Linked DNA regions of Homo sapiens. The protein of the gene in region 2 purifies or fractionates together with the protein of the main gene of each other region. This does not show direct contact. Each region holds a gene or a part of one and is shown on either strand. Other genes may lie near its edges.

Region 1 (7,687 bases), on a different chromosome or scaffold from region 2:
GGGAAGAAAAGAAATGGAAAATCAAATAATGCCAAAGTAAGCACCAACTCCCTAGGCATCCTTTACAGAGTTTCTGGAACAAGTACAAATATAAATAAATAATTTCAAATTATAAATTAGAACTCCATAATTCCAGGAGAATTGTTGGCACTTCAAGGGAGCCAAATGGAGACAACTTCTTCCAGATTTAGTTTGCTTATTTTAAAAATAACATAGGATTGGTAGAAACAAAGAGTAACATTGCTCTTTATGTTGTAATTACTTGTTAAAAGAAATGTTGGTTCACTATTATTCCTTCCTGGAAATAAGAGTCACAAGAAAAATTTTACCTCGTATTTGGAGCAAAGTACAAAAGTCTGGTCTCCTCCAGAGAAGATCTGCTTAACGATATGATATTTAAAGCGATCTGTCAAAAAAAAAATTCCGAAAGCATATTTTTCATTAATTGAAGTTTCTCCTTGATCCCCTTTTCTACTGTCGCAGAATACACTTCAGAGTGGGTACCTATCCATTTTAATTGTGTCACAGAAGTAAGAAATCTTCTCCCCTGGCTCACTGCCTAGGACTGTTTCTACTTCAATTAAAAATAAATATATAAAATGGTATCCTCCACTCTAACTCTTCTTCTGCCCCTCCCCAACTGCCAGTGAATCCTGACCTAGTTTCTCTTTTTCATTCTAACTCTGTCATGCCACTGACCTGAAATCTGAAATGGGCACTATTCTTTATGGTAACAATTCAGCATGTGAGTGTGGTGGGCCCAGGCCCCGTCAGGACGAATCTTGCCACGGAAGGACCTCCGTTTCCTGCTCCCTGCTTTACCTCCCATCACACTGTGTCCACGGTGACATTCTCCTACTACCACGTTGCCTTTATTTCTAATACACCACACTATTTCACATCTCGGTGCCTCCCCCCTCTGCTGCCCCTGGCACATGGGATTCTCCATGAATGTGCCCACCGAGAGCACAACCTGAATGTGCTTCTGGAACTGCACCTTGGTGGTGCTCACACCAACTCCCTCACAGTCCTCTACACCTGGCTAACTCCAAATCATCCTTCGAGGCACAGCTCAAACTTCCTCTAACCACAATACTCCTCCATGCCTTCCTCTGTGCTCCCACATTACCAAGAGGGTTCCTAAAACCATGTCATTTACATAACTGACATTTACCTGCTTATGTTATAAAATCATTTTGGCAAACATCCAAGCACAAATTTAGGACCATGGAAGTCAGGTTATAATTCAACTTCAAAAATTTGTGGTTTTGAAATAACCAAAAAACACCTGAGTTGGTAAACTTTCTAAATAAATGTATTCCACGTATGAGTACAATGTCTTGGAGAAAAGAATTTACAAATTACAGAGAAGAGGACACAAAGCCATTCTTTTGCTTCTGGGAACATCACCCAGACAAAATCTTGTTTATTTATATTTTAAGTTGCACTACATTTCAGATGCTCATATATCCATTCCAAAAATGTCTACTGAGTGACAAGTTCATGCCAGGTCCTGTGCTATATGCTAGGTTTACAAAAAGGAAAAGAGTTTGTCTGTGTCCTTGAGTTTCTTATAATCCAGTACTAAAACTTATGATGGTTACTGTTTCAAACAAATTCCTGATCAAGCCATAAGTGTGTCACTTTATCGACTTCAAAATCAAAATTAATAAGTTACACTTCCTTTTAATGATTCTCTAGCTCCATTTCAGCCTCAGATTTATTATTTCAAGGTGAAGCAGTCATTCAATATTAATGACTGCCTGACTTTGATTTCCAATGAAACCAAGACTGCTATTTAACTATTTTTTAAGGGAAGAAAAAAAATGGCTTAAAAAGAAATCACATCATGTTATATACCAAAATGCCAACAGCAAAGTAGAGGTAACATAGTACACATGATTTAGAATGACCTGGGTTTAAATCCTGCCTCCAGAATCTATGTGATCTTGGGCAAATTACTTGACCTCCTTAAGACTTTGTTCCCTTATCTCTAACATGGGGATAATAACCACTAACTAGTTCTTAGATTATTTTGAGTGCTTTGCATAGTAATGAAACGTCATTAAGCATTCAATACATGCGAACTGTCATTATTAGCAACAACAATAAAATGTATACACCACCACCAAGGTCTGTGGAAACAAAATAACTGGTATAGTTTGAATGTATGTTCTGGTCAAAACTCATGTTGAATTGCAGTAATCCCAATGTTGGAGGTGAGGCATGGTGGTATGTGTTTAGATCATGAGGGCGGATCCCTCATGAATGGCTTGGGCCATCCCCTTGGTGATAAGTGAGCTCTTGCTCTGAGTTCACATGAGATCTGGTGGTGTAAAAAGTATGGCACCTCCTCTCCACTCTTCCTCTTGCTCCTGCTTCTGCCATGTGAAGTGTCTGCTCCTTCTTTGCCTTCTGCCATGACTGTAAGATTCCTGAGGCCTCCCCAGAAGCCAAGCAGATGGCTGCATCATGCTCCCTGTAGAGCCTGCAGAACTGTGAGCCAATTAAAACTCTTTTCTTCATAAATCACCCTGTTTCAGGTGCTCTTTACAGCAATGCAAGAACGGCCTAACACAACAGTATTTCCTGCTTTATTTATTCTCTAGGATCTCAACTCTACAGCTTCATGCATAGTAAGTACAGAAATTATTAATTGATGTTAAAAAATACCTTATCTTCATTCCCTCCAAAAGACCTCAAAGTAAGTAATAGATACATATTCTGTAAACAACTGTTTTCATCACTTAAAATACCTTTAAATTCCAGAGACAATCATTCTTACCAGCTCGGGCTGAAAGCTGGCCACTGTGGGCAGCCCAGTAACCCTTGACAGGAGATGGGCACTTAACATTACAAGTGTGCCCAGTTCCTAATTGACCTCTTGCTCCACAACCAAATGCATAGATGAGTCCAGAAGAAGGCACGAAGGCTAGGGTATGTTGTCTGTGAAAAAATAATTTAACTCATCAGCATAGTTTCTACTAATGTGGATGTACACTCTGACTCTGACTTTTAACTTCCACATGTGCACAGCACAGGGTGCTCCTATAGAGCCTTTCCCATGTTAACACGTGACTCTTCTTGCAGCGGCTGCTCTCCATAATACTATCCTCTAACACTCTAGATCATGAGGAGGGTGGCAAGTCAGGAAAGAGCTGAATGATCTACTGCATGTGGCCTCTAAGATGAACAGAGAGAAGCAGGGTAGACTCAGGCAAAAATTTCCAAGAAGTTCTTTGGGACTCTCTCACTTTTCCTTTCTTTATCCCTTCCCCACATCCTGCTACTCTTTATCCCAAAAGAAGCCTAATGTCTCCGTGTTGCTCTGCTTATCTAAAACCCTTCCTTGCCACACTCTATCAAGGTCTTTCTCCACATTTCACCATAGGCGTGCATGCAGTTAAGATCTCTTAAAATGACGGTGACTAGGTATAATCACATTCTTCATCACTACAAAGATAAGACCAATTTCTGGGTCCTAGTGAATACAAGCAAGCTTTGAGGAACACTCACCTGCCACAAGCAATTTGAGTTACTTCACTACCCATCAGCTCTAGAACTCTTCTAGGGTTAACCTCATCATTCATGGAGTCGTGTCCAAGTTGCCCACAGGAACCAGCGCCAAAGGTAAACACACCTCCACTCTAACAAGGAACAAACACCATAGGACTTCACTGTATCTTTAAGGGTATACCTCTAAACCCTGTATACAAAATGCCTATCACAACAATGTGCACAAGAGCACTACATTCACTTGACACTTGGCCAAAATCACTTTGTAAGGATGTTCATTAAATAGAAAAATAATAAAAAGGGAATTTCAGACTGCATCTTTATGGAACAAAGATAGCAATGCTCAAAGGAATGTGTGCCTTCTGTAAATTTTTAAAATCGTTTGAAAGTACAATGATGTGTTAGGAAGCAAAATTTTAAAAAAGGAGAAACTAGGAGCTAGGCTAAATGAGATGATTTTACATGATCATTCACATGTAAGAAATTAGGTGCTCTACAAATTCCTTGGTAAGTAAGCTGTTTTTTTAACAGCTGTATTTAAATAAATGTTAAGGCATTTTATCAAAGTGAACGTAGAATAATATTTGTTCAATATAAAAATACATTTTCATTCTCTCTAGAATGTATTTAGAAGCAAAAGAAACATGATTATTTTAAAACATTAATTAAATTGCTGTTTCTTTTTTACATATTTAAATGACTTGTTTTAAAGGAACATAGGACATCATTTTATATATATTATATATACATAAAATAACAAATAAAAATAACAAAGTGCTGTCTTTGTTCCATAAAGAACCAAGGAATTTATATATATATAAATATATACATTATATTTATATATATAATCTACATTTTTATATAATCTACATTATATGTGTGTATATATATATAATCTACATTATGTGTGTGTGTGTATATATATATATATATATATATATATATATATATATATGAAAAATCTACAAGATTACCAAAGAGGATAACAGAGACATACAAAAAAGTAGTCTTTTTCTATTCCTTTGGAAAACAACAAACCCACATAAAAGAGAGCATTCAAGTTCAAGCCACAATACTGTAATCACACACCATCACTACACTAACATAATCAAGCAATTCTAATCACCCATCATATCCCCAGCACCAAAGTAAAATACTCTGAGCTCCTTACCTTTGTGAGAACTGCTGTGTGTTCTTCTCCACAACTAATATAGACAACTTTTTGCGTGCGTAAGAGTTTTACATGGCATGGAGATTCTCGATCTAGAATAAATTAAATATCAGAATATCACTACCATTTGCCTTTGAGATGAAATATACACAACTATCTTGGCATGAATTTTGGATTCCTGGATTCCTGACGCATGTTCAGTTTCCTGCCTGCATCTGTACTTGGATATCCAACAGACTTCTCAGTTTTAATTTACCTAAAACCTACCTCATGGTTTCCCTACACTCTCCAACCCTGCCCACTCTCCAGCTCACTTTACTACACACGGTTTTCCCCATTTCAGAAACAGTCATTTTGCCCTTCCAGCTGTTCCTTTATTTCAAACCACACATCCAACAGTGAACAAAACCAACTGGCCTCATCTTCAAAATATGTTTAAAATCTGACTTTACTCCCACAACCTCCAAGCTGGTCTTCCAGCTTCCCCCTTGACCCACTACAGCCAAAGCCAAAGTGGATCACGCTTCTCCTCCAAACCCTCAGGGTCTTCCCCTCTCACTGAGAAAACCAGTTATATCCTCACCCTGCCCCTCAGGGCCCTGCATAACTGGGTCTACACGACTTCTCTGACCTGCAGCTGTGCTACTCTTCCCCTTCTCTCCAACTACATCTCTTCCCACATGAGCACCTTTGCACACCCAGTTCTCTCTGACAGGAACATTTTTCACCCAGACATTTACATGTCCCATCTCCCACCTGATTTCCTACAGGTTCTGCTCAAACATTTTCTTATCAGAGGGGCCCTTCCCCACCACCTTATGTAAAGCAGGAAGCTGCACTCTCAAATCCTGTGTATTTACTGGTTTTGTTGCACCTCTACTCACTAGAATACAGTCTCCACTAAGACGAGGATGTTCTCTATTGTGTTCACTGCTTCTCCCTTAGTATCTCACATGGGGCTAGCACATAGTAGATCCTCAAGAAGCATGTGTTAAATGAATGTGCTTTTAAACTAAATACATACATATGAAGGGTTTACCTACCTTTTTCATCACTGAGCCCTAGCTGCCCGGCATTATTCATCCCCCAGCCAAAAACAGCTCCTGAGAGAGACAGGGCAAAGCTGTGAGCCCCTCCGGCAGCCACCTGAGCCAGTGGGATCCCCTCCAGGGACCTCACCCTCTGTGGGCTGGCTTGGGAGGGGAACTCCTTCCCTAAGCCAAGCTGCCCATGGCTGTTCTTTCCCCAGGTGAAGAACTGGCCATCTGAAATAACAGGATAACTGGTATTACCATAAAATGATACAAGCTCCACACACAAAAATAATCTAGTTATTAGGGTCATTTGCCAGTTGCCCCCCAACACCAAACCCACCCAAGAGCAAAGGAACAGAGATACTTCATGCTATCAGACTGCCAAAACCAAAACTCCCAAGTGATATAACAGAGAGGTAAGCTGAGTCTTACTGCCCTTCAAAGGCTATTAAAATTTATACACAGAAAATATTAAATGTATAAGTAAATTCAATTTCGGACAGGCCAATTACCAGGCTTAAGCAAGATCACACTAGTTCTGACCACACTAAGACTATGAGACCCAAGACTTCGGGAGGTCCAGCAATGACCACTTGGTCTGCTCTGCAGATAATCAAGCAGGACACAGAAGTGCAGATTTATTTAGGTTTCTCCAACTCCTTCTTTTTCATTCATTTGGGAGCTTGATAGTGGAATGTAGCTTGAGAGTTGGCTGTCGCTAAGAAAAATCAATCTCCTCCATGCTCAGAACACCTAGGTATGGTCCTGCCCCCTGCTTATCTTCCCCTGTGAAAGTTGGAGCAGCAATGATGACCACCTACTTCATCACCCACACCCTGAGAAAAGGATGAGCTATGCAAAGCCCATATGAGAATTGTCACTGTCCAACAGCAATGCATAGACCCTAACCAGTTAATTCAAAGTTTTCAGTTAGATAATATCACACAAAAAGACAAAGAGAAATGTTTTCAAAATTAACATAGCATTAGCATATGTTTAATGTTACTTTACCAGCCGCAAGAGCCAAGCAATGCCAGTTGCCACAGGAAACTTGTAATATTGTTTGCTGGTTCAGCTTTTGTATTAACCTAAAACAGAAAAGGCTTTCTTTTTCAGATAGATATTCACACACAAACACAATTATCAGAAATATTCCCAATTAAATAAAATGTCAGTAATAAATAACACCATCTTGCCTAAAAGTCTTTTTAAGGCCAGGCACAGTGGTTCACGCCTGTAATCTCAGCACTTTGGGAGGCCAAGGTGGGCTTATCACCTGAGGTCAGGAGTTCGAGACCAGCCTGGCCAATATGATGAAACCCCATCTCTACTAAAAATACAAAAAAAATCAGCCGGGCGTTGTGGCACATGCCTGTAATCCCAGCTACTCGGGAGGCTGAGGCAGAGAATTGCTTCAACAATTCCCCATCACCATTACTCTTGTCACAATCAGTTGTAGAAAAGAAGCAGGTCAGAAGAACAAAGACAGATAATAGAGAAATTGTACCCTTGAGGTGGGGAAGAGGGAGTCCATACAGTGCAAGCACATACTGTATTTTACCTACTTGTCTCCTTCTATCCTCCCCATAACCCTGTAAGGTACATAGTAAGTAATTTTTAAGTTAGGAAACTGAGGCTTAGAAAAGTTAACCTGCCCAAGGTCATTCACCTTACAAGTAAAAGAGCCAGTATTGGAATCCAAGGCTTGTTTGACATCAAAGCTATGTTACTTTCCACAATACAAAGGTATAAATTAGTGAATTTATTTCAATTAACTTATAATAGAAAACTATATACAAATCAAAGTCTTGGAAGTCATCCATAATTTGAACATGAATAATGAATATTAAGCTATTACTGTAGAACAGATTACTTCATTTTTAAAAATGAAATGCCGTTAAAAACCTTAATTGTGTTTTGGTCATCAACAAATGAAATATTTTTGCCATTAATGTTATAAACATTT
Region 2 (7,719 bases):
GTTGGTGTTTTGGAGGGATTGGCGAGACTGTGGAAAACATGTTCCAAAATGAAACAGATCCGCAGCCAGGGAACATTTCCTGCAGGCCCCATGAGGATGCAGATATTGTGAGCCTTCACCCCACAAGGGCAGGCAGTGTTCCCCATTATCTCTCTGCCCAGGCACCCATCTGTCATTGTAAGGACATTTCAAGGTTCCTTCTAAAAGTGGAGCTCTGCCCACTTCTCACCCCCACCCCACAGCAGCAATTAAAGGCCTATGGAAGGTAGGGAATTTAGCAAAGAGGAAAATACCAAAATGCAAAAAGAAAATGCAGTGAAATGAAGAAACCTGAAGAATTTGTACTCAATAGAACTATCTGTTAATATACAACAGTCAAATAGGTCTGCTAGTCCTTTCATATCAACATTACAGACATATTTAATGATTGAGCTCTAGTATACGCTTCATTCGTGAGAACGTCACAATTTCAAAATTCACTACAATTCGGTATATCGTAAAACTTACAATTTACCCTTGCAACAACAATTAAAGGGCATGCTTTCAAAAAGTGTGAACAAAAGGTACATTTAGCTCACCTGAGAGTGAGTGCAGGCCAAGCTGTACAAGCCTCACGGACCACACTGGCTTTAATAATTACTAATGATGTGTCTGTTCGTTTAGGAACTTCTAAGAGGCTCCATGCACACCGTCTGCAGCTCTGGGTGGAGGAACTATGCTCAGGGCATCTTGGGCCTTACCTTCCCCTCCCTGTGGGGAATCTTCAATTCACCCAATACAGGGCCTACACTACAGGCAAGATGATACCATCAATAATAACGACGGATAACGGTCACACACTCACTTCTTGCCATGTACTGCTTCTAGTGTTTTAGATGCATCATCTCATTTAATGTTCAAAACAAACCTAAAATGCAGGGACCATCATTATCCTTAGTTTATAAATGAGGAAGCCAAGGGGAAAAAGTTCGTAACTTGATTAAGGTCACACTGCTAAAAATGATGACACAAGGATTTGAACCCAGGCTGTCTGACTTTGGGGCCCTGAGTCTATGAATATACACTAAGAAAAGAATTAGGAAATCCAGCACAGAGCTCAGGGTACTCTATCTGAGGAATTAAAAATTTAGCCTCTAGTTCTTGCGTTTCTTTTTTGTCCCCTACTTGAAATATATTATCTCCCTGATATCTGCCTCTGCCCAAACATATTTTACTCCTGCTAGAGGTAACTCTATCCATCTTGACTCATAAAAACAGGTTAAGATCATGTTTTTCCTTTGAGTCACCAAATGCTCTTAGTCTCTGTCCCCATTTGAACTTCTTTTAGAATGTAGGTTTTTAGAAGGGCTTTCCCTACACAAACGACAGCAGCTGTGCAGAGTGCTACGTCCACCCACACGTGGGCATCTGAATCTGTGTGGAGTGGGGTATTTAAATCCAGAACACTCAGGTCAAGCTGCTGAGCAAGTTCAAGCAAGTTCACTCCTGACAGCATAATACCCCAAGAGGACACACACACACACACACACACACACACACACACACACACACACGCACACAGCAAATATAAGACGCAGAAGTCAAAAATCCATTTGTCATCCCAAACAATTTCTCACACGGTAATTTTTTTAATTTCCATTGCTAAGTTTTTAAGGTTGCCAGGTTTAGCAAATAAGGATACAGAATGCCCACTTAAATTTGAAATTAAGGTAAATTATGAATTGTTTAATGCATGTCTCATGCCATATGTGAGTTATACTAAAAAAGTATTCCTTTTTTTCTGAAATTTAAATTTAACTGGGTATCCTGTATTTTATCTGGCAGCCCTATAAGCATATTAGAATCTTTCCTATTTTGCCTAGATAATATCTCTAAAGTCACTTAATCATTTTTGTCATTGGATTCTTTGTGTGTGTGTGTGTGTGTGTGTGTGTGTGTCCAAATTTGAAATATAAGGCCCTGCAAAGACTTTAGCATTTCAGATATTCAAGGAGATGCTGAAACCATGGCCTCATGCTCTTCACCTTAACTTCAGTCATAGGGCTGAAGTTCTGCATGGGCGTTCCAGTAGATAAATCCCATGGGGAGGCAGCATTAATTGACACCAGCCAGACCCAGATTCCATTCCATACCATCCTGAAAACATGGCTCCATAGAGTTATGCGTTGCCTTGATTTTGTAACACCTTCATTTCTTAAAAACACTTGGATCCTTTTTTTAATACAATGAGTTAAAATTATTTAGATTTCAAAATTTGGAAACACCTTTTAGTAAAGTGAAAGCACCCTGGGCTTTTTGTAAATTTAGAGATGAGGATGCAGAAATTTCTGCATTATTTATTATTTGTATTAGCAGGAAACTCCCAAAAGAAGAAAACTCATCTAATGGGGTTGAGAGGATAAGTGCTTAGCAAGGGCTGGGTAGCCTTCTGCCCTAGTGTTCCCCTAATGCCCTACAGCTTGTGTTGCAGACCATTCTAATTTCACTCACACTTTTCTAATCCCCCCAATTAAAATTACCCAAAGGAATTACTTCTTTGCTCTCAAAGAGAAAAAAATGCAATATCCCTTTTGAGACATAAATAATAATAAGCAGGGGCTGGGTGCGGTGGCTCACGCCTGTCATCCCAGCCGTTGGGGAGGCCGAGTCGGGTGAATCACAAGGTCAAGAGTTTGAGACCAGCCTAGCCAACAGGGTGAAACCCTGTCTCTACTAAAAATACAAAACGTTGGCTGGGTGCGGTGGCTCACGCCTGTAATCTCAGCACTTTGAGAGGCTAAAGTGGGCAAATCATGAGGTCAGGAGTTCGAGACCAGCCTGGCCAACATGGGGGAACCCTGTCTCTACTAAAATACAAAAAATTAGCCAGCCGTAGTAGTGTGTGCCTGTAATCCCAGCTACTTGGGAGGCCGAGGCAGGAGAATTGCTTGAACCCAGGAGGCAGAGGTTGCAGTGAGCAGAGATCGCACTACTGCACTCCAGCCCGGGCAACAGAGTGAGACTCTGTCTCAAAAAAAAAAAAAAAACACCATTAGCCAGGTGTGGTGACAGGCGCCTATAATCCCAGCTACTTGGGAGGCTGAGGCAGGAGAATTGCTTAAACCCGGGAAGCGGAGGTTGCAGTGAGCCAAGATCGCGCCATTGCACTCCAGCCTGGGTGACAGAGCAAGTGTCTGTCTCAAAAATAATAATAATAGTAACAAGCAGGAACAACAGCAGCAAAAAAACATGAGATGGAACACTCCCTTACCTGCCCACTGTCCCATTGACCGCAAGAAAGACTTTGGCAAAACTTTCCAGTAGTTCAGTAAAACACATCTGGAGAATCTCACGCACTTCGCCAGGCAGGCCAGGCACACCAGCAGCCCTGTGAGGATGAAGAACTGTTCCAGGACGTCCCCCATGGCTGCACTCAACAGACTGTTTCAGCCCTGGCCGTGGCTCTCTGTGTATGCCTCCTGGGACCACGCTGCTCTGGAGACCTCCAGATCTTCTTCCAGGAGTCACTGGACGTGTTCCATCAAGTCAGGGGCATCTAGATTAAAGTAACTTCTTTACATAATCCTCTGACTCACAGGCCTTTGAATAAGGCTTTTGTTACTGTGGAGGAGCTGGTGAAAAAGTAAAAGGTGGACATGAAGGGAAAAAAACAAAGCCTGGACAAATATAAAATGGCAGCCCACAGTTCTCTCCCTGAATTTGGGAAAGTTAAAAAGGATGCAGAATCCAAGGCAATTATTCATACATTTAGCACTATGTATTGACTGCCTACCAGGTGGAGTCCCCTCTTGAAGGCATTAGGAAGTTAATAGTGACCACAGAGGGTCTCTCTGGTTTGGAGCTTAGATTCTGGTAGCAGGGACAGATGATGAGCAGATAAATAAGATAACATCAGATGGGGCAGTGGCTCACGCCCATAATCCCAACATTTTGGGAAGCCAAGGCAGGCGGGTCACATGAAGTCAAGAGTTCAAGACCAGCCTGGCCAACATGGTGAAACCTCATCTCTACTTAAAATACAAAAATTAGCCAGGCCTGGTGGTGGGCACCTGTAATCCCAGCTACTTGGGAGGCTGAGGCAGGAGAATCACTTGAACTTGGGAGGCGGAGGTTGCAGTGAGCCAAGATCACGCCATTGCACTCCAGCCTGGGTGACAGAGTGAGATTCTGTCTCAAAAAAAAAAAAAAGATAACATCAGTGCTATGAAAAAGCACTATTGAATGATGTGTTTGAGTAGCTACTCAGGGAATGCTTCAGAGAGGGTGTTCAGGAAGGAATTCCATGAAGAGGTGGCATTTTTAGTTGAAATTTGAATGAAAAGGAGCCAGCTCCGCAAAGATGAGTTTCCCCCTCCAGGCTAATGGAACGGCTAGTACAATGCCTGAAGTGAGAAAAATCCACGTATTTGAGGAATAAGAACTAGGACAGGACAGGCATGGTGGCTCACGCCTGTAATCCCAGCACTTTGGGAGGCCGAGGCAGGCGGATCACAAGGTCAGGAGATTGAGACCTACTAAAAATACAATAATTAGCTGGGTGTGGTGGAGCATGCCTGTAATCTTAACTACTTCGGAGGCTGAGGCAGGAGAATCGCTTGAACCTGGGAGGTGGAAGTTGCAGTGAGCTGAGATTGTGCCACTGCACTCCAGTCTGGGCGACAGAGCAAGACTCCATCTCAAAAAAAAAAAAAACACTAGGACAACACAGCAGAGGGACTGGCCACAGAGAGTAAGGGAGGAAAAGGCCAGAGCAGGAGGGAGGAGCCATGCCCTACGGGTGAGTGTGGACTTTCAGAGCAACCAGAAGCCATTGCACAGATTTAGGAAACAGAGTTCTATACTCTGAATTATGCTTTTAAAAGGCCACTGGATGCTGAGGGAAGATGTCCTTCTGGGGGTGGGATGGAGGGTGGGTGTGACAACTGAAGCAAGGGCAGCCAGGATACTGAAGTCATCCCTGCAGAGGCCACAGGATCAGTCCTTGGCCTTCTCTCATTTCTGCCTGTGCTCACTCTCAGCTCACTCTGTGCTGCAATCAACAGCCTTGCGCTCACCCTAGAAGCAGAATTGCTGGCCAGAACATAGATTCATACGTCTTTATGCTAGATATTGTCAGATTTGCCTTCATTTTGCATTCACGCCAACAACACGTGAGCATGTTCGTTTTCCCACTGCCTTAGCAGTAAAGCATGTTGTCAAGCTTTGGGACTTTTGCCACCCAGTAGGTAAGAAGTAGCATCCAATGTTGTTTTAAGTTTAAATTATCTTATCAGCCAGGTTGGAGAGATTTTCTTAAGCCTAAGAGCTATTTTCACTGTTTTCTTTGTGAATTTTCTCTCTCCTGCCCGTTTTTCTATGTGGTTTTTGGTCTTTCCCTTCTCTGTATTTAGAGATGGTTTCAGGACTCTGATTAGTCAGAAATTCGACCTGCTCACTCTGTCCTTCATGGTCATTGATTATCTCTTCAGGTGTGTCTGATCATTGTTAAGTCAGCCCATTGTGGTTTTTATTTTAATGACCTTAACTTCATTTCTAAAAGTTCCTTTTCTTTTTTGCAAAACTGAGGCTTTTCTTCTTATGGTTCTCTGCTCCATGCAGATATTTTTAATTTTGACTTTCTTTACCTCAGCATAATTGTCTTATGATCTGGCTTTAACAATTCCAGTACCTACATCAGCCTTTCTGTTGCTGTCTCCTCTCTCTGGTAGGTCTCACTCATGGTGCCCTGTTTCCTTGTGTGCTTGATAATTTTCACCTGTGCACATCCCATTTTGCTTGGAAATTTCTCTGTGAGGTTTTCTGATGAAGCTGTATTCCTCCATAGAGGAGGTGGTTTTGCTTCTACCAGATACCTAGAGGAACTTCCAATTTGGAAAATTAAATTCATGGCTAAATTCATAGTTTTCTAAACCATGCAGGTGAAGTGAATTTGGTCTGCCATGACACCCCACCCTGGCCTGTGTTGATAAACCCATAGGACGGTTCTCTGGCCATCTCCACCCACCACCACCTCCTCTGCTCAGTGCCAAGGTGCATTTCCTTGTAGTCCGGGAGCATGTTTCTTCTGGACCACGGTTACCCTGAGGATGTAGAAACCTTTTGGGACCCCGGCCTTATGGAATGTTCATCTATTAGACTCTTCCTGACCTTCATTTCTGTCCCATACCATCACCACTGAAGCTCCCCATCACCCCGTCCAGCAAATGCAGGGCTTATGTGGCTTCAGTGCTCAATTTACCTCTCTGTATTGCTGCTTTCTCTTATACTGAAATTTTTGACTATCTTAATAGGTTTAATGCTTTTAATAAGCTCTTTGAGAATATCTCTTCTGCCCACAAAAACATGGATAAATCATATTTTGTCAAGCAAAAGAAGTCACAGAAAAGTACTGCATTAGTTATCTATTCTGTATAACAAATTAACCCAAAACTTAGTTGCCTAAACAATGCCATGTATTATCTCATGATTTCTGTGGGTCAGGAATCCAGGCATGGATCAACTGGATCCTCTAGCTCAAGGTCTTTCACAGGTGGCAATAAAGTCCAGCCAGGTGGCCGTCATCTCCAGGCTCACCTGGGGAAACAGCAGCCCAGTCACTTGTTTGTTGCAGGATCCGGTTGCTCCTCCTTTGTTCCTTGCTGTGTGGGCCTCCTCACAGGGCAGCTCCCAAGAGCAGCTTGCTTCATCAGATCTAGCCAGTGAGAAGAATCAGACAGAGAGAGAAGGCAGAAGCCACACTCTTGTAATCTGATCTCGGAAGGGCCATTCCATCACTTTAGCTGCATTCTGTGCATTAGAAGCAAGTTCCTAGATCCACTCCATATTCAAAGGGAAAAGATCACACAAGGGAGTGAACATAGCGGGTGGGGATCATTGAGATCCATTATAGAAACTGCCTTCTACATGTACATACCATAGGATGTTATTTATAGGAAGTTAAAGAACAGGCAAACATAATCTTCAGTAAAATAAAATCAGAACACTTGTTGCCTGGTAGAGGTGAAGGGATTGGCTAGAAGGGTCATAGGGAACTTTTCTGGTTGATTAAGATGTTCTATATTTTGATAAGCAATGTGTTCGGAAGGGCATGCCTTAATCAAAACTCACTGGACTGTACACTTTTAAGCTCTGTGCAATTTATTGCATGTAAATTATCTGGAAACTTCAAACAAATTTTATCCTGCAGTTATTCTTTGGATGGTGGATAATTTAGACTTCCGTTACCAGAACTGTAAGCCGCAATTCATTTGTGTGCTTGGTCACAGACCAAGATTTCCCCACTTTTACTTTTCAGCATCAAAAACTATATCCAACCCCATGTAATAGATTGAGAAATTACATACCAATATCTGACTGTGAATTCAGCAAAGCTTTTAAATAAATGTGTATTTTTCTATTTGCAAGATGCTATGACTTGTATCACCTACCCCCTGGCCCCAGCCAAAATTCATGTATTGAAGGCCTAACCCCCAGTGTGATGATATTTGGAGATAGAGCCTTTTGGGGGTGATGAGATCATGAGGGTGGGGCCTTCATGGTAAGATTAATGCCCTTAAATGAAGAGACACAAGGCTGGGTGCGATGGCTCACACCTGTAATCCCAGCACTTTGGGAGGCCAGGGTGGGTGGATCACCTGAGGTCAGGAGTTCTAGAGGAGCCTGGCCAACATGGTGAAACCCCATCTCTACTAAAAATACAAAAATAAGCCAGGCATGGTG

What was found. The genes of interacting proteins can lie anywhere in the genome.
Region 1: the proteins of HSD17B3 (region 2) and HERC3 purify together in Homo sapiens (affinity purification with mass spectrometry; 2 studies listed by BioGRID and IntAct, with this or other methods). This does not show direct contact.

The regions. Positions count from the first base shown.
Region 1 is NC_000004.12:88,651,134-88,658,820, reverse strand, and holds part of HERC3 (probable E3 ubiquitin-protein ligase HERC3), read right to left. Parts: intron 6,810-7,687; coding exon 6,733-6,809; intron 5,953-6,732; coding exon 5,731-5,952; intron 4,780-5,730; coding exon 4,688-4,779; intron 3,648-4,687; coding exon 3,517-3,647; intron 2,947-3,516; coding exon 2,786-2,946; coding exon of another isoform or gene 2,748-2,785; exon of another isoform or gene 1,387-2,747; intron 407-1,386; coding exon 330-406; intron 1-329. UniProt on the Homo sapiens protein: E3 ubiquitin-protein ligase which accepts ubiquitin from an E2 ubiquitin-conjugating enzyme in the form of a thioester and then directly transfers the ubiquitin to targeted substrates.
Region 2 is NC_000009.12:96,298,701-96,306,419, forward strand, and holds the start of HSD17B3 (17-beta-hydroxysteroid dehydrogenase type 3), read right to left. Parts: upstream 3,477-7,719; 5' UTR 3,405-3,476; coding exon 3,251-3,404; intron 1-3,250. UniProt on the Homo sapiens protein: Catalyzes the conversion of 17-oxosteroids to 17beta-hydroxysteroids. Favors the reduction of androstenedione to testosterone. Testosterone is the key androgen driving male development and function. Uses NADPH while the two other EDH17B enzymes use NADH.